7 linked regions of the Homo sapiens genome follow. The protein of the gene in region 2 interacts with the protein of the main gene of each other region in a biochemical or structural test. Each region holds a gene or a part of one and is shown on either strand. Other genes may lie near its edges. The genes, in order: CLDN3, RAPGEF6, JAM2, KCNT1, RPS6KA3, ABCA2 and PARD3B.

Region 1 (2,908 bases), on a different chromosome or scaffold from region 2:
TTTTTTTTTTTTTTTTTTAAACAGGGTCTGCTCTGATGCCCAGGCTGGAGTGCAGTGGTGCGATCATAGCTCACTGCAGCCTCGAACTCCTGGGCTCAAGTAATTTCCTGCCTGAGCCTCCGGAGTAGTTGGGACTATAGGCACACGCCACCACACCTGGCTAGTTTTTTAATTTTTTGTAGAGACGGGGTCTCACTATTTTGCCCAGGCTGGTGTCGAACTCCTGGTCTCAAGCAATCCTCCCTTCTCAGCCTCCCAAAGTGCGAGGATTACAGGAGTCAGCCACCACGGTGCTCGGTCCTGCCCGATTTCCCACTTTTGCGGAGATCGAACCTCTTTCACCACCATTTCATTAAGGTGGGCCTCAGCCCTGACTCAGGCTCAAAGGGAGGGAGGACAGGGCTCGGAGAGGGGAGGGGACTCAATGGGAGGAGGGGGACTTCTGGGAGGGGAGAGCAGCTTAGCTAAAGGCATGCAGGCTCACGGCCAGCGATGGGAACTGGAGGGAGAGCTGGAGAGGAATTTGAGCTTAGTTAGGCTTAAGGGCATCTTTTGGGTACCTTTGCGCAGGCAGTCCCTGGCTTCTGGGCCCAGCAATTCCTGGGCTGGACAACCCCACCGCCCGGACTCAGGCTGAGCCTGTGCGACGTGTGTACGGGAGGGGCAGAGCAGCAGGTGCGCGGCTCCTGCAAACAGCCGCGGCCACGCCCACCCTGGTCCTCCCCGCCCCGCCGTTCCGGGGTAATTGGCAGCGCCCCCATCCCCACGCGGCACGTGCCAAAAGCGCCCAAAGTGGTGAGGAGAGAGAAGCCGTGTCAAATTCTTTGGGATTTGCACCCCAAGCCCCTGACGCATCCCGTCCTCGGTTTTGCCCCGGAGAATTCATTCCCGAGCAGAGAGGGACAAGGACCGAGGGGCGGGGGCTGGGTCAGGTCCCGCCCTTCCTTGGCAACCCCCCTACCCCGGCGTTGTGGGCCGCGCAGGGCCAAGTCCTTCCTCCCAGGACGCTCGGTGAAGGTGGGAGGCAGGGGCCACGTCACTGTCCTTAGGCCCTGGAGAGCGCGGCTCCGCCCCTACCGCCCCCACCGGAGCGCTGGGCACTTAGCTAAGACGCACCGGCCCCAGCCCAGGGCCAGCCCAGTCGCCGCCGCCCGCCCACAAAGCCACAGGCAGGTGCAGGCGCAGCCGCGGCGAGAGCGTATGGAGCCGAGCCGTTAGCGCGCGCCGTCGGTGAGTCAGTCCGTCCGTCCGTCCGTCCGTCGGGGCGCCGCAGCTCCCGCCAGGCCCAGCGGCCCCGGCCCCTCGTCTCCCCGCACCCGGAGCCACCCGGTGGAGCGGGCCTTGCCGCGGCAGCCATGTCCATGGGCCTGGAGATCACGGGCACCGCGCTGGCCGTGCTGGGCTGGCTGGGCACCATCGTGTGCTGCGCGTTGCCCATGTGGCGCGTGTCGGCCTTCATCGGCAGCAACATCATCACGTCGCAGAACATCTGGGAGGGCCTGTGGATGAACTGCGTGGTGCAGAGCACCGGCCAGATGCAGTGCAAGGTGTACGACTCGCTGCTGGCACTGCCACAGGACCTTCAGGCGGCCCGCGCCCTCATCGTGGTGGCCATCCTGCTGGCCGCCTTCGGGCTGCTAGTGGCGCTGGTGGGCGCCCAGTGCACCAACTGCGTGCAGGACGACACGGCCAAGGCCAAGATCACCATCGTGGCAGGCGTGCTGTTCCTTCTCGCCGCCCTGCTCACCCTCGTGCCGGTGTCCTGGTCGGCCAACACCATTATCCGGGACTTCTACAACCCCGTGGTGCCCGAGGCGCAGAAGCGCGAGATGGGCGCGGGCCTGTACGTGGGCTGGGCGGCCGCGGCGCTGCAGCTGCTGGGGGGCGCGCTGCTCTGCTGCTCGTGTCCCCCACGCGAGAAGAAGTACACGGCCACCAAGGTCGTCTACTCCGCGCCGCGCTCCACCGGCCCGGGAGCCAGCCTGGGCACAGGCTACGACCGCAAGGACTACGTCTAAGGGACAGACGCAGGGAGACCCCACCACCACCACCACCACCAACACCACCACCACCACCGCGAGCTGGAGCGCGCACCAGGCCATCCAGCGTGCAGCCTTGCCTCGGAGGCCAGCCCACCCCCAGAAGCCAGGAAGCCCCCGCGCTGGACTGGGGCAGCTTCCCCAGCAGCCACGGCTTTGCGGGCCGGGCAGTCGACTTCGGGGCCCAGGGACCAACCTGCATGGACTGTGAAACCTCACCCTTCTGGAGCACGGGGCCTGGGTGACCGCCAATACTTGACCACCCCGTCGAGCCCCATCGGGCCGCTGCCCCCATGCTCGCGCTGGGCAGGGACCGGCAGCCCTGGAAGGGGCACTTGATATTTTTCAATAAAAGCCTTTCGTTTTGCACTCGCTGGAGCCTCCTTGTTCCCAGCGCCTCCACCTCCCTGCAGAGCTCCCCCTCGGGGCGGCCTTGGCTGGATCTCGCTCTCCCGGATGGAGCTTAGAGGGAAGATGGGGTTGTAAGCTGAGCTTGGTGATGGCGGGGTGGTCACTTGCCCACTCCCTGGGGATTCGGAAGACAGCCTGTGAGGCCAAAGCCAGCGCCCAATCTAGGAAGCAGGCATGAGCACTTTCCGCACGCCATGGCTGGGGATGGGAGGGGAAGGTGGCAGAGATGTGCCCCTGGGTCTGTGCTGGGAGCCCGGACCCCGCACAATACCCGACACATTCGGAATCTCCCGTGCGCCTTGTGAAAGAGCGCATTCCGTACTGCCATTTCCTATTGGAAAAACGAAAACAAAAAGACCTATTGTTTGGATAAAACACGCCACCAAAAGTAAAACCGGGCCAAATCTTCTCACCTGGGGGAGAGATGAGAAAGGGTCCCCATCTCCTTCCTGGGACCC
Region 2 (3,500 bases):
TGAATAGAGATTAACAGAGTGGTCTTTAGAATCAGCTGCACCTGTATTTGAATCCTGCCTCTCCCATATAGTAGCAATGTGTCAGTGGAAAACTGAAGATAGGTTTTCTTATCTGTAAAATACCACCTATATCACAGTTTTTAAACAGCTAAGTCTAAAACAGAGGAATAAAGATGCCACTGATAAACACTTGGAAGGCTAGAAATGGAACCTGTTTGTAAAGGAAGCATCAAGTAAAGAATTTGAAAATTACGGGCTCAGTTTTAGAGTCCACTATGAAGAAAATTGATTGACACTGAGAGAATAGATCTCTGTATAAAAAAGAGGGTAGAAAGAAAGTGGTAGAGGTCTAAAAACCATACCTTAGTATGATGACTCAGTGTGAGGGTAAGGAAAAAGAGTCTAGCCAAAGAGATGGAGGATCAGTACAAGAAACAGAGTAGCACAGTTATGATAGTGTCATCAAAGCCAATGAAAGAGAGTGATTTGAGAGAAGATGTGATGGACAGTAGCCCAAAGAAGGGAGTGGATAGGAAAGGGCTGAGATTTGGTTAAGAGGCTTTGTTTGGTTAAAAGATTTGTTTTGTTACAAAGAATATTTGTTCTGCACATTTTCATAGCTCATGTAAAGATCATTGCTTTGTTTCTTTTGTATTCTTTTTAAGATAATTGTTTTGTATTCTTGTACTTCATGTTCAGGTAGATCAAAGAATATACTCTTTTCAGCAGAGATGGCAAAGGTGAATCATTCTGTTCTGGCTATAATTAACAACTTTTTATAATTATAAAATAATTTTAACTTTTTGAATAGACATGACATGTACATGGAAAAAATTTTAAAGATAAAGAGTACACAGCGAAAGTAACTTTGTCTCACCCAGTCCCTAATCCACCCAAATTCCTCTCCCCAGAGATACTGTTACCTTTTTTCATTCAAGAAATACTCTATCCATATAGCAAGCATATAAATATATATTTAAAACCACCTTGGCTAATTTTTTTAATTTATCTTGGAGATTATTTAAAATCAGTTCTTATAAAGTTGTCTCATATTTTTTAAACAACTATGAAGTACTCCTTTGTATTGTGGAGTGCACATTATGGATATTTCTAAATTTCCAGACTTTGGCTATTTAAAACAGTGTGTGGTGTTTACTTTTGCCATGTAGAAATTTTTTTATTTTTATGTAGATGTATTATTTTTTTTCCTGCTGGAGTTTCTGCATTTTGTGGTTAGTTAAGAACAAAGAATTGCCTAGGTTTGAATCCAGTGTTGGCACTTGTTGTCTATGTGAACTAAGTTTCCTCATTTGTCAAATGGGAAATCCTGGTAGTTCCTACCTAATAAGGTTAAGAGTATTCAATGAGCTAATACAATGAGAGCTCTTAGAACACCCTAGACAACATTTTTTATTAATCTTGAATTCATTTTTATGTAAACAGTGAGATAAAGAAATATATCTTTCTTTGTTCCAAATGACTTCTTCACCCAACATCATTAATCAATCTTTTTTTCTAAAATATGCAATGCCATCTATTATGTACTGAAATCTAACACATATTTGGGTTTATGTCTGCACTCATTGCTTCATTGATTTGTCTATTCATTTACTGTTTTAGTTGCTGAAGTGGTAAAATAGGTTTTAAGGTCTGATAGGGCTAGTCAAACCCCTTATGACTCTCTTCATACTTTTCTTTGGCTATTTCTGGCATGTTTATTTGTTTCATATCAACTTTAGAATCAATTTATGTAGTTCTTTTAAAAAGTTTTGTTGATGTCTGGGCGCGGTGGCTCACGCCTGTGATCCTGGCACTTTGGAGGCCAATGCAGGTGGATCACAAGTTCAGGAGTTCTAGACCAGCCTGACCAACATGGTGAAACCCCATCTCTACTAAAAATACAAAAAAATTAGCCAGGTATGGTGGCACATGCTTGTAATCCCAGCTACTCAGGAGGCTGAGGCAGGAGAATCACTTGAACCCAGGAGGTGGAGGTTGCAGTAAGCCAAGATCATGCCACTGCACTCCAGCCTGGGTGACAGAGCAAGACTCTGTCTCAAAAAAGAAAAGAAAAAGTTCTGTTGATGTTTTCATTGAGATTACATTAAATACCTAGATTACTTTAGTGGACATTTGATAGCTTTGTAACAATGGCTCTTGCCATCCAAGAACACTTATTCCACTTGTTTCAGTTTTCTTTTATTTCCTCTGTGGAGTTGTTTTATTAGTCTGTTTTCACACTGCTGTATAGAAATACCTGAGACTGTGTAATTTATAAAGAAAAGAGGTTTAATTAACTCACAGTTCCCCATGTCTGGGGAGGCCTTAGGAAACTTACTATCATAGTGGAAGGCGAAGGGCAAACATGGCGTGTCTTACATGGCAGCAGAGAGAGAGAGAGTGAGGGGGGAAGTGCCACACTTTTAAACCATCAGATCTCTTGAGAACTCACTGATTATCATGAGAACAGCGTAGGGGAAATCTGCCTCCATGACCCAGTCACCTCCCACTGCGTCCTTCCCCTGACATGTGGGGATTACAATTCCACGTGAAATTTGGGTGGGGACACAGAACCAAACCATATCAGTTTTTATAGTGGTGTTCATGTAAATCTTGAACATTTGTTTGAATGTTTAATATCTTTTATTGCTGTTGTGAATGGGATCCTTATATTATGAATGGGATCCTTAAGTTTTCTAATGGTTTCTGCCTAAGTATTCTAATGCATATGAATATCAGTGTTGTACCTAGTACCTTACTGCATTCTTCATGCTTCTAATAATTTTCAGTTAATATTTTGGGAGTTTTGAGTTAAACAATCTAATTTTCTTCAACTGATGATAACTTTACATCTCTCATTCCATTTATTAATAACTATTTCTCTATTTTGTCTATTTTCATCTGCTGGTGCTTCATATTAAATGATACCATTGTCCCTCAGTATCTGTGGGGCATTCGTTCCATGGCTCCTCACAGATAGCAAAATCCTCACATACTCAAGTCCTGCAGTTGACCCTGAGGAACTTGTGGATACATAAAGTCAGCATTAGCAGGTTTCACATCCAAGGAAACTGTATTTTTGATCCACATTTGGTTGTGAATGTGGAACACTCAGATACGGAGGGGTGACTGAATTTATTGAAAAAAATCTGCATATAAGTGGATCCATGCAGCAGTATTCCACGGTAGCAGGAGTTAGCCTTGTATGTGAATTGTTTTATCCTTTACTTTTTCTTAGTAAATGGAGATTGTGGCAGCATTAGGGCTGCTTACAACTCAGAGTGTCTCCCTTCTCTCCTGTCTCAAACAGATTTGTACCAAAGTGTATCACTGTGTGCTATGCCAAATAAAGGATTGTTGGCTTGGCATGGTGGCTCATGCCTGTAATCTCAGCACTTTGGGAAGCCAAGGCAGGCAGATTACTTGAGCTCAGGAATTCAAGACCAGCCTGGCCAACATGGTGAAACCCTGTCTGTACTAAAAATATAAAAATTAGCCAG
Region 3 (3,500 bases), on a different chromosome or scaffold from region 2:
CACACCAAGGCTATATGGTGTAGCCTATTGCTCCTAGGCTACAAACCTATACAGCATGTTACTGTACTGGATACTGTAGGCAACGGTAAACAGTTGTAAGTATTTGTGTACCTAAACATATCTAAACATGGAAAAGGTACAGTAAAAACAGCACAAAAGATAAATGGTACACCTGTGTAGAAACATATCATGAGTGGAGCTTGCAGGACTAGAAGTTGCTCTGAGTGAGTCAGTGAGTGAGTGGTGAGTGAATGTGAAGGCCTGGGACATTACTGTATACTACTGTAGACTTTATCAACACTGTACACTTAGGCTACACTAAATTTATAAAACAATAAAGTTCTTGTGTTACAGCAGTACGGGCGTTATAGCATCACTAGATGATAAGAATTTTTCAGCTCCATTATAATCTGTGGGACCACTGATATGGTTCATTGTTGACCAAAATGTCATTATGCAGTGCATGACTGCATTTGAAATGTAGTTAATTAAATCTGATCAGGAATTTAAGAAAAATGGCTCTTTGGTTTTTAAGGAAAAAATTTTTTAATCATGTGTGCTGTGTTTTCAACTTTCTGTTCAGTTCCCAACCTATAAACATGAAACAGTAGCTCTTTTGGTTACTATGTATACCTTCTTTCAATGTTATTCTCTCTCCCACACGTAAGTTTATTTTCAGTATTTGTTTCCAGTGTTTCCAGAGTTTCCCTGAGTTGTCACCCTTAGAATGGTCATTTTACTTGATTTGATATTCAGAAGAGTGGCCTTCTAAGTTCCAAAGTGTGTGAGTGTATGCATGCATCGGGTGTGGGGGGAAAGAGAGAGAGAGAGAAGGAGAGAGAGAGAGAGAGGGAGGATGGATGGATGTGTGCTCAGATAAATGCCTGCTGACAGCAACACAAAACCCTACTCTATGAATCTTCAGGCCAGTGAATGGGTAGGAAATGCTCTCCAGTTTGAATTGTTCCTACATTTTATGAGCAGAGAAGCAAATCCTGTGAAAGTATTTCAAGAGCTGCCCTCTTAGCTGTCCATTGTCTTGGCTCAGAAAGTCCTAAGGAAGAATCCTTGTAAACTTAACAGACAGGAATTTTGGTTTTTACTGGAGAGCTCTGCTTTTCTTTATCGCATGTCATCAGCATCAAATTTTTATTTGTTTTGTTGGGTTTTCTGTTTTGTTGTAGTTGTCAAAATTTTCTACTGGGATAATTTAGGACGGGCTTGTCTTTATATTTGTAAGGAGTAAAAATGCATAACCTGGTCTGTCTTCTTTATGCTAGGTTTGTCCAATTTGCTTGCTTTCATTTTGTCAATGCAGTCACCTGCTGTTTTTACTCTTCGCTTTCTTCACATTGTGAAACTTCCTAAATACATACTATGGACAAAACCAAAGATAAAAATGAATGAATTGTTAAACACATTTTCTTATATGTCTAACTAAAAATAATATATGCTTAGGGTAAATTCAAACAGAGCAGTAAGTTTACAAAACAAGAAATAAGTCTCCTTTCCAGCCTTCCTGACTCCTTTGCTTCTCAGATAGACCATCCTTAAGTTTCCTGCAAATGGTTTCAGGAAATTAGAAAAGAAATAGTTCCAGTATATATAAGCATACTCTTATAATTTCTTTAGAAATAAAGATCACAATTTATTATGCTTACTGCTGTATACCTTCCAGAAAATCAAATCATATTATATATAGTGTTGTGCACCTTGCTCCAAAAAGTTATTTATGTTAGTAATTAAGGTACAACCTAAAGCTCAGTCTACAAGCAGGACAGAAGATAACATCTTATAGAGGCCTTTAAAATTGTTGCACCAAAATGCAGTGGGAGCTATTTTCTAACTAGAACCACCAAAAATAATGGAACAAAATGATTAGTAAAACAAAGGGAAATAAACTTCCAAACCAGTAACCAAATATGGAAAGGGAAAAATTCCAAGCAAGATCCAGTTAAAAAGTCCAAAGGAGAACGTGTGTGCACCCAGAGAGGACAGAGACACTAGCACCAGCTAAGATTCACAGACAAGTGCAAAGGGGTGCTATTTTTAAAGGAGACCAAAGAGGAAATAATGACCACAAATAAAAAGGGAACATGTCAAACTTCTGGGCAAGTGCTAAATTTGAAAAGAGAGAATGGTGTTTATGTTTTTTAAAAAATGCACTAGAGGGCTGGGCGCTGTGACTCACGCCTGTAATCCCAGCACTTTGGGAGGCCAAGACGGGTGGATCACCTGAGGTCAGGAGTTTGAAACCAGCCTAGCCAACGTGGTGAAACCCTGTATCTACTAAAAGTACAAAAAGTAGCTGGGCATGGTGGCATGCACCTGTAGTCCCAGCTACTCAGGAGGCTGAGGCATGAGAATCACTTGAACGTGGGAGGCGGAGGTTGCAATGAGCTGAGATTGTGCCACTGCACTCCAGCCTGGGCAACACAGCAAGATTCTGTCTCAAAAAAAAAAATTCACTAGATGCATTTTCAAATAGGAATGGATTTTGATCAGAAGCAGAACTGACACAATGGAATAAACAATAACTCAAGTATGCATTTGTCCAATAACTGAAACATGCAGCCATCTATGTCATAAAACATTAAAATTGTACCTAAGCATATTGGAGACATGAGATTATTGTACTGTCCATATAGTGCTTTTGGATCCAGAACAAGTCAGGTTCTTTTGTGCCGTGTGTTTGTGTGTGTGTGTGTGTGTGTGTGTGTAAACGAGTGAACATCTATGCCATTTTATCTAGATACAGTACTTCTTCCCAACCTCCATTCATCTCTGTTGTTGTTGCTATTGTTCCTCATATGGCCAAATGCAATTTCTCCCTGAAGGTCTAACTCCAAAATTCCTTGCGCCTTCTCTTAATTCTTTCCAACTCATCAATTCCTCAAAGCTGATGTCTACTGTATATTATACTCTGGTGCTTTTGGTATATTCTTTATTCTCTTATGGCACTTACTGAGCTGTACTGTTACAATTTTTCCATGTATATCTCTCTGTATTGTGAGCTTGCTGGAGGCAGAGACAACACATCTTTAGGTCGTTGGTACCTAGAGTACTGCCTGGCACATTTAATACTTGATTAAGTAGAATTACATAAGCTGGAATTTAATGTTTATTTGTTTTGTAGCTTCATAAAATTATATAACTTTTTAGCAATAAAAACCTCAAGACATATGTAAAATTAATAGTCTCAAATGAATGCATAATATTACTGCTCCTAAAACTCCCTCCTCCTCTTTTTAACAGTGGCCTCCCTAAGATATAAGGAAATATAAAGACTGGTCTGCCTTATAGGATTTTAAGAAATTTTCCAGATTTCCTGATGCCTCCTTATATCCTAAAAGCACATAAGTTCCTCTTGAATTAGTAAGCATTGATTAAAAACTCAGATGAGTCAAACAATACACCCCTCAAAAGTTGCTTAATCTAGACTAGAACAAAGCACGTATTAGTGTGTTCTCACGCTGCTGTAAAGGACTGCCCAAGACTGG
Region 4 (3,500 bases), on a different chromosome or scaffold from region 2:
TGGGTGGCACCTTCAGAAAGGCCTGGGAGGCTGGGGGCTGGTCAGGCCAGATGGGCATGGGGGCTGCCTGCCTTGGTGGGGCCTGGGAGGGGGCGGGGGTGCACCTGGTGTCCAAACTCACAGGCTACTCCCCCCAGGCCTCAGCTTCCCCACCACCAGTGCAGGAGGGAGTGAGTGTCAACAGCCTTCTCTGAGCCGTGCTGGGGCCGACACATCCGTGGGACCCGCTCCTGCCTCGGCTTTCCCAGGGCCCTGTGGGTGGGTGGGTGGGTGGGGCCTGGCAGGCTTCTCCATGTGAAGCTGCGATGTTCTGGTGCTCCGCAGAAGCTGCGTGGGCACGGAGGGGTTGCTTACCTGGGCTCTGAGGTCGTGGGGCTGCAAAGGAAACAGGCGCAGTCTGGGACCTGTGGGCGCACCCCTGCCCCCCACGCCGCCTCAGCCTGGGGTCTGCACGGAACATGCTTAGGGCTGGTGGGCACGGTGCCTGCTGCTGTGTGGACTGCAGCACAGGGGCTGCCCGTATTCTTCCTGAAGACTCCCCTGAGCCTCTCTGCCCCCGGTAGGGGTCATGGCTGCTCCAGCTGGAAGCGCTACACGTGGGCACACGGACCAGACGGAAGGAGCTGCCAGCAATAGCAAAGCTGATCTAGCCCAGGTCCCTGACACTGAAGGTGGGGATGCTGTGGGTCACACAGGACAGGGGCTGCCACAGTCCCAGCCCCCGGAAGGTGGGGATGCTGTGGGTCACACAGGACAGGGGCTGCCACAGTCCCAGCCCCCAGGCTGCCCCAGAACCTCCGAGGTGGAGAAGACGTGGCTCTCTGTCCGGTAGATGCCAATGGGGATCTCGGCGCTGGAGGAGCAGAGCTTCTGGAAGAGGCGGCCGTACGTGCGGATCCACAGGTCGCCCTCGGTGATTTTCATCTGCAGGGTGGGAACCCTGAGTTGGCTGGGGCAGGTGGCAGCACCCAGAGCCTCCTGGCCACCGTGAATCAGGGGCAGGTGCCCATCCACCCACTTGGACAGCCCAGCACGCCCCCAGCCCAGCGCAGCCAGGGGCACTTACGGCACAGAGGTACCCCGAGCCCGGCGTGGTGTCCAGGCCCAGCAGCAGCCGGGTGATGGTGATCATGTAGTCCTTCACGAAGGACTGGCCAGGGAGGGAGGGAGGGAGGGAGGGAGGGAGGGAGGGAGGGAGGGAGCCACAGTGAGGCACGCGGGCACGGGCGTGGGACACAGGTCCATACCCCACCGGCCACGGGCTCGCCACCCCTCATGCATACACACACACAGAACCACCAGGTCCCCAAGCACCACATGACCCACAGGCAGAGTTCTGGGAGGCCTTTTCTAAGAAAACTCCCTTGCCAGGCACCCATAGGTCAAAAAGGGCCCAGAAATCCCTGGGGCAAGGACAGGGCCCAGAGGTCTCCTTGGAATCCAGGGAAGGTCATTCAGAGGGAGTCCTATCATTCAGAACAGGGACCAGGCTGAAGAGCTGAGGGCATGACGGGGGTCCCACCCAGGCGCCACCCTCCTGCTGCCGCTTCCCCGCTGACCTGGTAGAGCAGTGTGTCCAACATGCTGATGCTGAAGACGCGGCCGGCGGCGAACGGCAGGCGGAACATGAAGGCCAGGTTGGAGCCATTCTCTCGCTCCCTCTGTGGGAAAGGAGGGGCCTCAGATGGGCTGGTGCCGAGGTCCCTCCAGTGGCACGGCAGCCACGGGGTCGAGGGCACTGTGTGTGCACCGTACATGTGTGCATGATACCTGTGTGCACATTTGTGCATGGTGTGTGTGTCCACGTGTACACAGTGTGTGTCTGCATGTGTGCATACACCGGCAGGCCTGAACCAGCTCTATCTTCCCAGACACACTCAGGGCCAGAGCCCGGGAGGAGTGATGTGGGGCTCTGATGAGAAGGTGGACTCCCGGCGGCTGCCATGGGCACTGCGCTTGGTCAAGCGCCCTGCTCTTGCCATCCCGAAATTCCAAATCCTCCTGATAATCCTCTCCTCCCCCGGTGTTTTGTAAGTGGTGCCGGAGGGCGTGTGGAGTCTGGGCTGAGGAGGAGCAAGCATCGGGCTCCCTGCTGTCCTTGGCCTCCCCGTCCCTGTGCTCCAGGCTTGCAATGGACCCACTGAGTTTCCTGGGGCTCCCGTAACAAATGACCGCAAACTTAGCAGCTAAAACGACACCTGTCTCCTCTCTCCCGTTTCTGGAGTCGGGAGTTTGAGGTGTCTCAGGCTGGATCCAGGCCTGGGCAGGGCCCCGCTCCCTCTGGAGGCCTGGGGGCCTCCTTCTCTTGCCTTTTCCAGCTCCTGGAGGCCACCTGCCTTGGCTTGTGGCTCCCTCTTCCCTCTTCTGAGCTGGCCGTGCAGCTTCTTCCCACCGGATGGGGACCTCTGGCCTCTCCCTAGAAGGACCCTGACGGCGTGAACCTGCCGGATGCTCCAGGAGGATCTCCCATCTCGAGGCCCGTGACTTAATCCCATCTGCAGAGGCCCTTCTGTCACGTGAGGCGGTACATCCACGGGCTCCGGACCCGGCCGTGGCCAACTCTCGGGTCATTCTTCAGCGGAGGGCCCCAACCCTGGAGCTCGGCCTCCAAGCAAGTGTGCACAGGCAGGCGTGTGCGCCCACGGAGGCCACACTTCCCCCCGGAACCAGAACTCGATTCACAGGTAAAAGACACGACAGCGACAGGACAAGCAGGCAGAAGCCCCTTTTCCTCCGGGTTCGCCCTTACTCATCAGTGGCCGGTGGGAAGGCTGGGGCGTGAGAAACAGTGGAATTAGTTTCGTGCGGCGTTTCCGCTCTTGGGGCAAGAACCAGGTGCGATGAGCTGCGATGGGCGTGTGAGTTTGCAATCGTGGTGATTTGCATCCAGAATTCCAGCCGTACTTCGCGGAGACGAACGTGAAATTCCAGAACAACTTGCAATTTTAATTTTCCTTTACTCAGAACAACGCTAAACAGGAAACAAGAACCACGACAGGGCCAGAGAGAGACGTGGAAGGAAAGAAAAAGCTGGACGTTTCAGGACCTTCCAGAGATTTCCTCCTGCTTTCTGGACAGGAGGGCTTCAGCAGGGGCTGAGCGGGTGCCATTCACAAGTGACAGTGAAGACAGGAGCACACAGGAGCGGATGAGCCCTTCCTGAGCACGAGACCCCCGGTCAGAGGGAGCAGGACAGGCACCGTGCAGCCCCAGGATGGGCAGAGCCAGCCTGAAGGAAGGCTCCTGGTGAGGAGGAGAGATCACACAGGCTGACCATGTGAAAGCAATGAAGTGGTGGAGGAGTCCTGGGTGCTGGAGACCAGGGGAGGTGGACGGCAGGGGAGGTGGGCCTCAGGGGAGAGACTCCTCTCACACACCGGGGCTCTGAGAGCCTTCTGGAGCCAGCCCTCAAGGGGAGATGCATGTCACCCCACCAGCAGCATCCTTAATAATAGTTTCATTTTTTTGCTTGGTTTTTTTTGAGACAGGGTCTCGCTCTG
Region 5 (3,500 bases), on a different chromosome or scaffold from region 2:
GATAATACCGAAGTCTCTCTATATTTTTTCCTAGATATATATACCTATGATATAGTTTAATTTATAAATTAGGCACAGTAAGAGATTAACAATGACTAATAATAAATTAGAACACTTGTAACAATATACTGTAATAAAAGTTATATGAATGTGGTCTCTCAAAATACTGTAATATTTTTGACAATGGTTGACTGTGGTAACTGAAACCACAGAAAGCAAACTTGCAGATTAGTGGGGGACTACTGTACTTTTTTATCATAAGCTTCTCTGACATTCCTTTTTAGACTTAAGTGTGCCTTCTGTCACCAAATTCTGAGTCTGTGTTCCAATCAATCAAATTAGATTTAGTTCCTCACATCCAGGACATCACTTCTCCAGACTATTTTAATAACGAATTACTGATGAGGCATTGGGAAAAGAACACAGAAGACTTTGATGACTGCAAGGTCATAAGTTCCTCAGTGACTACTGAGTTCTACTAATTTCAAGTTACAATACTAGGCAAATCTTGATAAGTTAGAAGTCAGGAAGCTCCAGAATTAACACATTCTACTTGGCTTTCAGGGGCAAAGACAAAACAAAAAGAATGTATTGAAACTGAACTCCTTAAGAAGTAATCTTTTATATATGCATGTATCAAAACATCATGTTGTATACCATGAATATACATAATTTGTCAACTAAAAAATTTTTAAAAAATTGTTTATTTTCCCCTTGCTTTCTGCTCCTCTGCTTCACTCCTCTGCTGTTCTCCTTTCCTCCCTCCCTCCCCTCATTTTCTCCTTTCCTCCCAGACTTCCCTTCTTTTTTTTTTTTTTTTTTTTTTGAGATGGAGTCTCACTCTGTTGCCCAGGCTGGAGTGCAGTGGTGCAATTTCAACTCACTGCAACCTCCGCCTCTCGGGTTCAAGCAATTCTCCTGCCTCAGCCTTCTGAGTAGCTGGGATTACAGGCATGAGCCATGACGCCCGGCTAATTTTTGTACTTTTAACAGAGACAGGGTTTCGCCATGTTGGCCAGGCTGGTCTCAAACTCCTGACCTCAGGTGATCCACCCACCTTGGCCTCCCAAAGTGCTGGGATTACAGGCGTGAGTCACTGCACCCGGCCGCCTTGTTTTAAAAATACGATTTTCTCGAACTCCTGACCTCAAGTGATCTGCCTGCCTCGGCCTCCCAAAATGCTGGGATTACAGGCATAAGCTACCGTGCCCAGCCTAGAAATACAATTTTCTTTTGCTGTTTACTAAAAATCTGCATACAAGAAGAACGAAGAGCATATCCACCAGCCGAAGCATGTGACTCCTTGGCCTCATTGTTTTAAGGATTTCCTTTTATACATGAATACAAACCAGGATTCCTTGGTTCTGCTTCTAACCTGAAGTGGGCCTGGTTTTCATGAGTACAGAGTGACCTAGCAGAAACAATGCTATGTTTTCCAGGTCGGAAGAGATCACTTACTTTTTCTTGGAAGCACAAGAGTTTAACATAAACAAGCTAGGATATCAAAGGTACACTTCAATCTCAATAATAAAAGTTTATATAGAGGAAGGTCAGTAGGATAATTCAGCTAATAGCAGTTATTTTCCATTTCAGGCATAAAGTAATTTCTATCTAATTCTAGCTCAAACATAAAGGAAAAAAGTGTGTGTATGTACATATAGAGTGGTAAAAAGACTTACCCCTTGTGCGTGAAGATATTCAACGGTTTTAGTTATAGTGAACAGGACAGCACTGGCCTCTCGTTCAGAGAAAAATTTTTGTCTAAGAATTTTATCCAGCAATTCACCTCCTTTCATAAGTTCTGTTACTACATACACATACTTTCCATCATCATATACCTATAAATTTCAACATCAAAATGTAAATATTATTTGAAACTATATGTGCCCAAAACGAAGTTTAAAATATAAAGGAAAAATTAAACTCACTTCATATTCAAGACAAATTTTATTTATTTATTTATTTTGAGACAGACTCTGTCGCCCAGGAGTGCACTGGCACAATCTTGGCTCACTGCAATATCCACTTCCTGGGCTCCAGCGATCCTCCCACTTCAGCCTCTCAAGTAGCTGGGACTATAGGCGCATGCCACCACACCTGGCTAATTTTTGCATTTTTTGTAGAGACGAGCTTTTGCTGTGTCTCCATGAGCAGGGATAATCTGAGGAAATTTGAGTTTTGACAACCCCCAGATAAGGCCTTTGGGCCTATTGAGCATCATTAGCAAGAGAAGACTTAACACTACCTGGGGAGTTCACACTGTTTGCCAACACTTTGTTATAATAAAAGTCAAGAGAGACATAGGCAACAGGGTTATCATGACAGTCCAGGGAAAGATACTTTACTTGTCCTGGGGGTGGCAATGGGCAGGGCAGGCTTCCTGGAAGAAGCAGTGCCTTAGCAAAATCTTATATGTGTGGTAGTTAGCCAGGTAAAGAAAATAGATGGTGTTGGCAACTGAGGGAACTATAAATTCAGACATAACAGCATGGAAAATGAGGCATGCGCAAGAAATTTACATACTAGAACACAGAGCATCAGGTGTATGAGAAAGGGTGTGTGAGAAGTCTGAAAACTACAGAGGAAGGCAGGGTCTTAAGCGGCTGGGGACTTTAGACTGTAGGCAGGGAAGTTAAATGGGTAGTTATGAGTGTTAGATCTCTTTTCTAGTAATGTGGAAGATACTTTGGGGTAGTCTGGAGAGTGAGACTAGTCAATATTGAATATGAACTAATAGTAATATTAACACTGAACATTTAGGTAAGTGTTCAAGTAAGTGCAGATATTAAAAGCAATAATATCGTAAGTACTTTTCTTCTTAAAGCAAAAGTAGAAAAAAATAACTGTACAAACATATCTTTATTGATAAATGAAATTATGCCATATACACATATAAATTGTTTTCAAATCTACTTTTTAAACTTACCATGTTGAATTTTGTTTTGTTTTGTTTTTGTTTTTGAGACAGGGTCTTGCTCTGCTGCGCTGGCTGGAGTGCAGTGGTGCGATAACTGCTCACTGAGGTCTTGACCTGCCGGGCTGAAGCAATCCTCCCACCTCAGCCTCCAGAGTAGCTGCGACTATAGGCATGAGCCACCATGTCAGGCTAATTTTTAAATATTCTTTAGAGACAGGGTCTCCCTATGTTGCCCAGGCTGGTCTTGAACTCCTGGGCTCAAGCAATCCTCCTGCCTCAGCCTCCCAAAGTACTGGGATTACAGGTGTGAGCCACTGTGCTCGGCCTGGCTAATTAAAAAAAAATTTTTTTTTGTAGAGATGGAGATCTCACTGTGTTGACCTGGCTGGTCTTGAACTCCTGGCCTCAAGTGATCCTCCTGCCTTGGCCTCCCAAACTGCTGGGATTACAGGCGTGGGCCACTGTGCCCAGCCTATGATGAGTTCTTTGTCTACCACATGATTTTTGAAAATACACTACTTTCAATGTGAGTTAGACAACTGATTCAAATGATCCATATTAAAGAATCTACTTACATCCTTTA
Region 6 (2,252 bases), on a different chromosome or scaffold from region 2:
CTCATGGAGATGGCCTACAACGAGTACATCAACGAGTACTACGCCAAGATTGGTGAGGGGGCCCGTGGGGCGGGGAAGGCGGTGGGGGCCCCGCAAGGCCCAGAGCACAGGCCCTGAGCTGTCTCCCCGCAGGCCAGTTTGACAAGATGAAGTCCCCGTTCGAGTGGGACATTGTCACCCGCGGACTGGTGGCCATGGCGGTTGAGGGCGTCGTGGGCTTCCTCCTGACCATCATGTGCCAGTACAACTTCCTGCGGCGGCCACAGTGAGTGGGGGGCGGGGTGGGGCGGGGGCGGGGCGGGAGCAGGGATGGGTTCGGGGGTGGGGCAGGGTAGGGGCGGGGGTGGGGGCAGGGATGGGGCAGGAGGGGGTGAGGCAGGGGACAGCAGAGGGGCCTGCCCACCCTTCTTACATGCCACAGCCAGAGGATGCGAGGCTGGTGGCAGGGAGGGGCAGTGGGGGTGGCGAGCTGCTGGACACTGTCCACCCTGTCCCCCAAGGCGCATGCCTGTGTCTACCAAGCCTGTGGAGGATGATGTGGACGTGGCCAGTGAGCGGCAGCGAGTGCTCCGGGGAGACGCCGACAATGACATGGTCAAGATTGAGAACCTGACCAAGGTGGGCTCTGGGCATGTAGGGTGGGGCCTGGGTGGGGTAGGCCAGGGCCAGGGGGGTGGGGCCCCAGCAGTGGAGGTGGAGCCTGGGTGGGCAGGGCCCTGAGCTCTGGGGGTGGGGCCTGCATGGGGTGGGGCTGTGGGGCACGTGGCCCCCTGGGCTCTGGAGGTGGGGCAGGGTCTGGGTGGGGTGGGGCCAGAGGGGCAGGGTGGGGGCAGGATGCCCCGCTGAGTGGGCAGGCTCCTGGCCAGGTCTACAAGTCCCGGAAGATTGGCCGTATCCTGGCCGTTGACCGCCTGTGCCTGGGTGTGCGTCCTGGCGAGTGCTTCGGGCTCCTGGGCGTCAACGGTGCGGGCAAGACCAGCACCTTCAAGATGCTGACCGGCGACGAGAGCACGACGGGGGGCGAGGCCTTCGTCAATGGACACAGGTGGGGCGGGAGCCCTGGGTGGGCGGGGCCGCCGCGTCCTCACGCGCTGACAGCTGCCGTGTCCCCAGCGTGCTGAAGGAGCTGCTCCAGGTGCAGCAGAGCCTCGGCTACTGCCCGCAGTGTGACGCGCTGTTCGACGAGCTCACGGCCCGGGAGCACCTGCAGCTGTACACGCGGCTGCGTGGGATCTCCTGGAAGGACGAGGCCCGGGTGAGGATCTGTGGGGCGGGGCAGGGAGTCAGCACGCTGGGTGGCCCTGCCTCCACTGACACCTGCGTTCCCTGGCCAGGTGGTGAAGTGGGCTCTGGAGAAGCTGGAGCTGACCAAGTACGCAGACAAGCCGGCTGGCACCTACAGCGGCGGCAACAAGCGGAAGCTCTCCACGGCCATCGCCCTCATTGGGTACCCAGCCTTCATCTTCCTGGTAAGTCCTGGGTGGGTGGGGGGTGGCTGCCTGGCCTTTGACTTCCTGGTGAGCACGGGCAGGGGCAGCGTTCAGGCTGGGGTGTGTGGGCCTGGCAGCAGCTGAGCCTGCCACCCATCCCCAGGACGAGCCCACCACAGGCATGGACCCCAAGGCCCGGCGCTTCCTCTGGAACCTCATCCTTGACCTCATCAAGACAGGGCGTTCAGTGGTGCTGACATCACACAGGTGAGGGCGCCCCCACCCCCTCTTTGTGCCCCCACCCCACAGCACCCCTTCCGGTGCCAGCCTGTGCATGTCCCACAGCATGGAGGAGTGCGAGGCGCTGTGCACGCGGCTGGCCATCATGGTGAACGGTCGCCTGCGGTGCCTGGGCAGCATCCAGCACCTGAAGAACCGGTGAGCCGGGGCAGGGCCAGGGGTGGGCTGGGGCGGGCCCGGGGGGGGCGGCCAGGCAGCGGGGCCAGGAGTGGGGGTGGCTGCAGGGCTGTGAGGGCTGTGGGGCCAGGGGGGCTGGGGGCACTGGGGCTGGGGGGACTGGGGCAGTGGGGCCAGGGGAGGAGCCTGGAGGGCTGTGGGGGCTGTGGGGTTGGGGGGCTGTGGGAGGCTATGGGGCTTCCTGGGGTGCCTGTGGGGGCTGTAGGGCTGGGAGGCTGGGGGGCTGGGGCTCTGGCTGGGCGGCGCAGGGCTCCGGGCCACCGGCCTGTCCCACCAGGTTTGGAGATGGCTACATGATCACGGTGCGGACCAAGAGCAGCCAGAGTGTGAAGGACGTGGTGCGGT
Region 7 (4,106 bases), on a different chromosome or scaffold from region 2:
GCCTCAATGGAGTGCCCTCTGGATCTTCTGATTTTATGAGGTGATCAATTCTGTCTTTGGTTTATTTAAATGTAAATTAGTTTGTATTGGATTTACAACCAAATTACAATGGACTTGGTTTACGTGATCCTCTTGGTTTGCCACTGACTTTCTATACATAGAAGACAACCAATATATACTTACTGAATGTATGAATGAGCTAAAATTTATTTTTTTAAAAAACCTCTTGAAACCCATGAATTTAATCTCCTCTGCATTATCATACCATCCTAGGCAATTCACGTTCAATTTAAGTGTGTCCACATAGGAGCACATCCTTCTGTAGAGAAACACATGATGCAGCCCTGAGGGTCTTGCTGGATGAACTGGATGGCTAAGAAAACTGCAGGGAGAGACCAGAGATTGAGCTCAGAAGACCTGAGTTCTTTTCAACAGAACTAACACCATGGTCTGCTCAGTCTCTTGACCTCTCCGAGCACCATTCTTGATGCACAAGATGCGAAGAATAATATCTACCTACCGGGTAGTTGTTAAGCTCAAAGGAGCTCATTTACATGAGAGCTAAGAATGAAACTAACGTAATTTGTTGGTTTCCCCCACATATTCCCATTTCAATTGGTGATGGATACACACCTGCCAAATCATGAGCCTAAGGGTGTTAACTTTTTTTTTTCCTAATAAAATGCACAACGGTAGTCGCATTCCAGAAGGCTATGTGTCAACACACGCGATCATATCTGGGTCTTGGGTGTGACCTTTGGCCAAATACTCAGTGTCCTCGAGGGTCTGTAAAAGGAAAAGTTTCCACTGGCGCGTTCTCTCCAAGGTTCGCTTCAGCTCTGCTATCCCAGGGCTCCTGATGGCAGCGGCACGGGCTGTGCTTAAGGCGAGTTCCTAACAGGCCCTCGGGGCACTCCTGCATCTCCGCACCCGGCAGCCTCGCCCCTTGGGTGTTTTTGGTGGGCGTGACTAGAAGCACCTGCTCCTGGGCTCCTTTTGCATCTTGCTGCAGTCCCCTCCTGTGAAGGGCGCAGCTCTGCAGTCTCCTCGCTCTTCCCTCGGGTGTTCTTTCTGAGATCCGGTTTCAATCCTCGAGCGTGTAGCCCTCAGGTCCCCTTACAACTCCCCAGAGCTCCGTGTGCATGCGTGCGAGAGGGAGAGAGCCAGGGAGAGACCCAGGTGACGAGACGAGGCTCCCGGGCTCCAGTTACTGGCCCGCAGGGCCGGGGCACGTCGTCGCCCAGCGTGCGGCGGGGCCCGGGAGCGCCGCGGCCCCTTTAAGAGCCGGGCCCAGGCCGTCGCCGGGACCGCAGGAGCCCAGAGCGCGGGCGCCGCAGAGGAGTTGGGAGCCGGCGCAAAAGTTTCCTCCCAACTCTGGCCCCGTGCGCCGCCGCCGCCGCCGCCCACTCCAGCCCCCGGCTTGGGGCCGGCCCTGCCAACGCCGCCAGGGCCAGGGCCAGGGCCAGGACCAGCGACAGGGCAGGGCCGGCAGTTTCGCTTTGGTGGGCGCGGAGCAGCCGCCTGGGCCGGGCAGGAGTAGGAGCGGGAGGAGGAGGAGGAGGAGCCGGTGCCGCGGAGCTGCCGCGTCCCGGGCCGCCGGGCACCTGGGAGGTAACCCCTTTCCGCGGCCGCCCCTCCCCGATTCCCGCCACCTGCCGCCTGGCCAGGTGGAAGGGGCGCTGCCGCGAGCCTCCGGGCCTCAGGGTGTTCCGGGGAGCGGCGCCCCGGGTCTCTGGGCCCACCCGCCCCGGGCGTCCTCCGAGAGTGGGGGCTGCGCCCGCGGGGTCAGACACCTGTTCGGCCCGGCCCGGCGTGGTCGCCGGGGGCCAGGATGAAAGTGACCGTGTGCTTCGGCAGGACGGGCATCGTGGTGCCCTGCAAGGAGGGCCAGCTGCGCGTCGGCGAGCTCACCCAGCAGGCGCTGCAGCGGTACCTGAAGACCCGGGAGAAGGTGAGCGCGGCGCGGAGGAGTGGGGCGCGGCTGCAGCCAAGGCACCTGCCAGGTGCGACCCGGTGGCGACACTCAGGGGATGCAGAAAACCCAGGGGATTATGGGGCACTGCCTGTAGCTGCAGCTGTTGTCTATTGCTAATATCAGTGATGTGGGTGTCTTTGGGTGTTTGTGGGCCTTGAGCTCCGAGGGTCGTGAGTGGACCTGCAGCATTGGAATCTCTTGGGAGCTTCTTAGAACTGCCCAATATGGGCAGTTCTCCAAACCCACCGACTCAGGATCTGCTCTTTAACGAGATCCCCAGGTGATTGGAATGCCCACTGAAGTTTGAGAACCACTGGTTTAGAACTTGTTTGAGGGAACGTCTTAAAAGGTGCTGCTCACCTAAGTGTGATTTTTGACCCATTAAGGCCCGCCTCACTTAGGCTCCTTGGAGTTAGAAAGTTGATTGTGCAAGTGACACATACTCGGAAGTTACAACTGATGGGGCCTTTGGAGTTTCAGCCTTGTGAGCTGCCCTGTCTCAGTGACTTGGGCAGGAACACAGGTGGGAGCATGCTGTTTGCTTAGCCAACCTGTCTACATTTTGAGTGTTTTCAGTTTAATGTCACAGATTCTATGACCATTTACTATGTGTGTGGGCTGTTGTCAGGTCCTGAGTGACTATTAAAATGAGAAAGACGTTCCTAGCTCTGTAGCTGAAGTCAGGAACAAGTATAAATTAAGTGACAATTTTTTTTAAGTGTGCAATACATGTTGAGAAAATATCTGGCACTAGAACTTATGCCAAGTATTTGGGTAACATTGGGCCTCTGGGACTTCCTCAGTGAAACTTTTAAAGGAAGGCATTGAATAACCTTTTAATTTTTTGAATCTTCACATGGAACATTTTGTATGTCCCAAATGCTCCTCAAACAGGGCAAGTCACAAATTCTTGTTTTAGCGGCCAATGGTTCTCTTAATATTTGGTCTCGTGCCATGTGACTAAAATAGTGGGTTGGTCAATCTAGTGATGGAAAAACGTAAGTTTTAATTTCTTTTAACTTCTTATCGGTTATCCAAAGCATAAAAGTAATTGTTTCTTACAAGTGTATAGCTTAGGGGTTTAAGAAAATACTTGCACCTTCTTTGCCTCCATGAAGAATTATTATACAGAAAAAAAATTCAGCTCTGGACAGATACATGTGCATATTGCTTTGGATACTCAAGAACTGGAGGAGAGTACAATGAAAGGTCTATTAATATATTAAATATAACCCCTAAAGATGAACTCTTTACTGATGGAATTGAGGTGGAGGAGGGAAAAAATTAAAGTGGTTTATAAAGCTGTGTGAAAATCAACTGCAATGTTATGTGTGTGTGTGCACGTGCATATGTGTTTGCCATTGTTAAAATAGTGTTTGCTGTTTAAATCATGTAATTCAGTTAACTGATGTTTAAACAAGTAACCAATTGTCTATTAAATCATATTTCACTAACTTTTGAAAGTGAGCTAAGATTAATAGTAACAACATTACTCCAGACAGATTATTGAAATAGATCTCATTGAGGGATTGTCTTACCAAATTGAAGTTACTTTTTAACTATTAAATAATTTATGCCCTCAAATCTTGTATATTTAGAAGTTTAGTACAGGGGGCTATCCAAGTAAGAGATAAACTACAAGCTTGTAAATAACATGAAGAGAACTAACCAGCTGATATTTAATTCACTATAATTTGATCTTAAAAGGTGTTAAAATATTGACATTCTGGAATGGAAACGTAACTTATAATATCACAGAACAATGTAGTTGCATTGATCAGTTTACTATTATTACCAGACTTATATTTTTCTGTTTACATTTATATATTAGTGAATGTGACATTTAAAGGTCACCTGCAGCATATAAATCCTTCCTCTTATTTTCACTTTTAAAATTTCATTTTAAGAAGTAGTAGGTGATGATTTTTCCCCTCCCCAAGTATTCTTCTCCCATAGTTTTATTTTAAATAATATTGTAATCATAACAAGATTTAACGAATATTAAATCGTATTCATAATGGCACTAAAAGGTCAATAAATACCCTAACAAATTCCATGCTTTTATTCATTTTTTTTAAATGAGAAAAGGCCAGAAATGTCAAAATTCAATTTGAAAAACAATGTGTAGTAA

The links.
Region 1: the proteins of RAPGEF6 (region 2) and CLDN3 interact in a test that uses a peptide from one of them, tested with the Homo sapiens proteins (one large-scale study listed by IntAct).
Region 3: the proteins of RAPGEF6 (region 2) and JAM2 interact in a test that uses a peptide from one of them, tested with the Homo sapiens proteins (one large-scale study listed by IntAct).
Region 4: the proteins of RAPGEF6 (region 2) and KCNT1 interact in a test that uses a peptide from one of them, tested with the Homo sapiens proteins (one large-scale study listed by IntAct).
Region 5: the proteins of RAPGEF6 (region 2) and RPS6KA3 interact in a test that uses a peptide from one of them, tested with the Homo sapiens proteins (one large-scale study listed by IntAct).
Region 6: the proteins of RAPGEF6 (region 2) and ABCA2 interact in a test that uses a peptide from one of them, tested with the Homo sapiens proteins (one large-scale study listed by IntAct).
Region 7: the proteins of RAPGEF6 (region 2) and PARD3B interact in a test that uses a peptide from one of them, tested with the Homo sapiens proteins (one large-scale study listed by IntAct).

Annotation. Positions count from the first base shown.
Region 1 is NC_000007.14:73,768,497-73,771,404, reverse strand, and holds CLDN3 (claudin-3), read left to right. Parts: upstream 1-1,134; 5' UTR 1,135-1,355; coding exon 1,356-2,018; 3' UTR 2,019-2,408; downstream 2,409-2,908. UniProt on the Homo sapiens protein: Barrier-forming claudin. Plays a major role in tight junction-specific obliteration of the intercellular space, through calcium-independent cell-adhesion activity.
Region 2 is NC_000005.10:131,457,230-131,460,729, reverse strand, and holds part of RAPGEF6 (rap guanine nucleotide exchange factor 6), read left to right. Parts: intron 1-3,500. UniProt on the Homo sapiens protein: Guanine nucleotide exchange factor (GEF) for Rap1A, Rap2A and M-Ras GTPases. Does not interact with cAMP.
Region 3 is NC_000021.9:25,645,758-25,649,257, forward strand, and holds part of JAM2 (junctional adhesion molecule B isoform 1 precursor), read left to right. Parts: exon of another isoform or gene 1-1,375; intron 1,376-3,500. UniProt on the Homo sapiens protein: Junctional adhesion protein that mediates heterotypic cell-cell interactions with its cognate receptor JAM3 to regulate different cellular processes. Plays a role in homing and mobilization of hematopoietic stem and progenitor cells within the bone marrow.
Region 4 is NC_000009.12:135,782,185-135,785,684, reverse strand, and holds part of KCNT1 (potassium channel subfamily T member 1), read right to left. Parts: intron 1,662-3,500; coding exon 1,560-1,661; intron 1,151-1,559; coding exon 1,067-1,150; intron 925-1,066; coding exon 796-924; intron 376-795; coding exon 355-375; intron 1-354. UniProt on the Homo sapiens protein: Sodium-activated K(+) channel. Acts as an important mediator of neuronal membrane excitability. Contributes to the delayed outward currents. Regulates neuronal bursting in sensory neurons. Contributes to synaptic development and plasticity.
Region 5 is NC_000023.11:20,165,910-20,169,409, forward strand, and holds part of RPS6KA3 (ribosomal protein S6 kinase alpha-3), read right to left. Parts: coding exon 3,493-3,500; intron 1,839-3,492; coding exon 1,680-1,838; intron 1-1,679. UniProt on the Homo sapiens protein: Serine/threonine-protein kinase that acts downstream of ERK (MAPK1/ERK2 and MAPK3/ERK1) signaling and mediates mitogenic and stress-induced activation of the transcription factors CREB1, ETV1/ER81 and NR4A1/NUR77, regulates translation through RPS6 and EIF4B phosphorylation, and mediates cellular proliferation, survival, and differentiation by modulating mTOR signaling and repressing pro-apoptotic function of BAD and DAPK1.
Region 6 is NC_000009.12:137,008,986-137,011,237, reverse strand, and holds part of ABCA2 (ATP-binding cassette sub-family A member 2), read left to right. Parts: coding exon 1-52; intron 53-132; coding exon 133-265; intron 266-500; coding exon 501-618; intron 619-866; coding exon 867-1,045; intron 1,046-1,113; coding exon 1,114-1,255; intron 1,256-1,334; coding exon 1,335-1,469; intron 1,470-1,593; coding exon 1,594-1,697; intron 1,698-1,775; coding exon 1,776-1,868; intron 1,869-2,184; coding exon 2,185-2,252. UniProt on the Homo sapiens protein: Probable lipid transporter that modulates cholesterol sequestration in the late endosome/lysosome by regulating the intracellular sphingolipid metabolism, in turn participates in cholesterol homeostasis.
Region 7 is NC_000002.12:204,544,169-204,548,274, forward strand, and holds the start of PARD3B (partitioning defective 3 homolog B), read left to right. Parts: upstream 1-1,306; 5' UTR 1,307-1,831; coding exon 1,832-1,951; intron 1,952-4,106. UniProt on the Homo sapiens protein: Putative adapter protein involved in asymmetrical cell division and cell polarization processes. May play a role in the formation of epithelial tight junctions.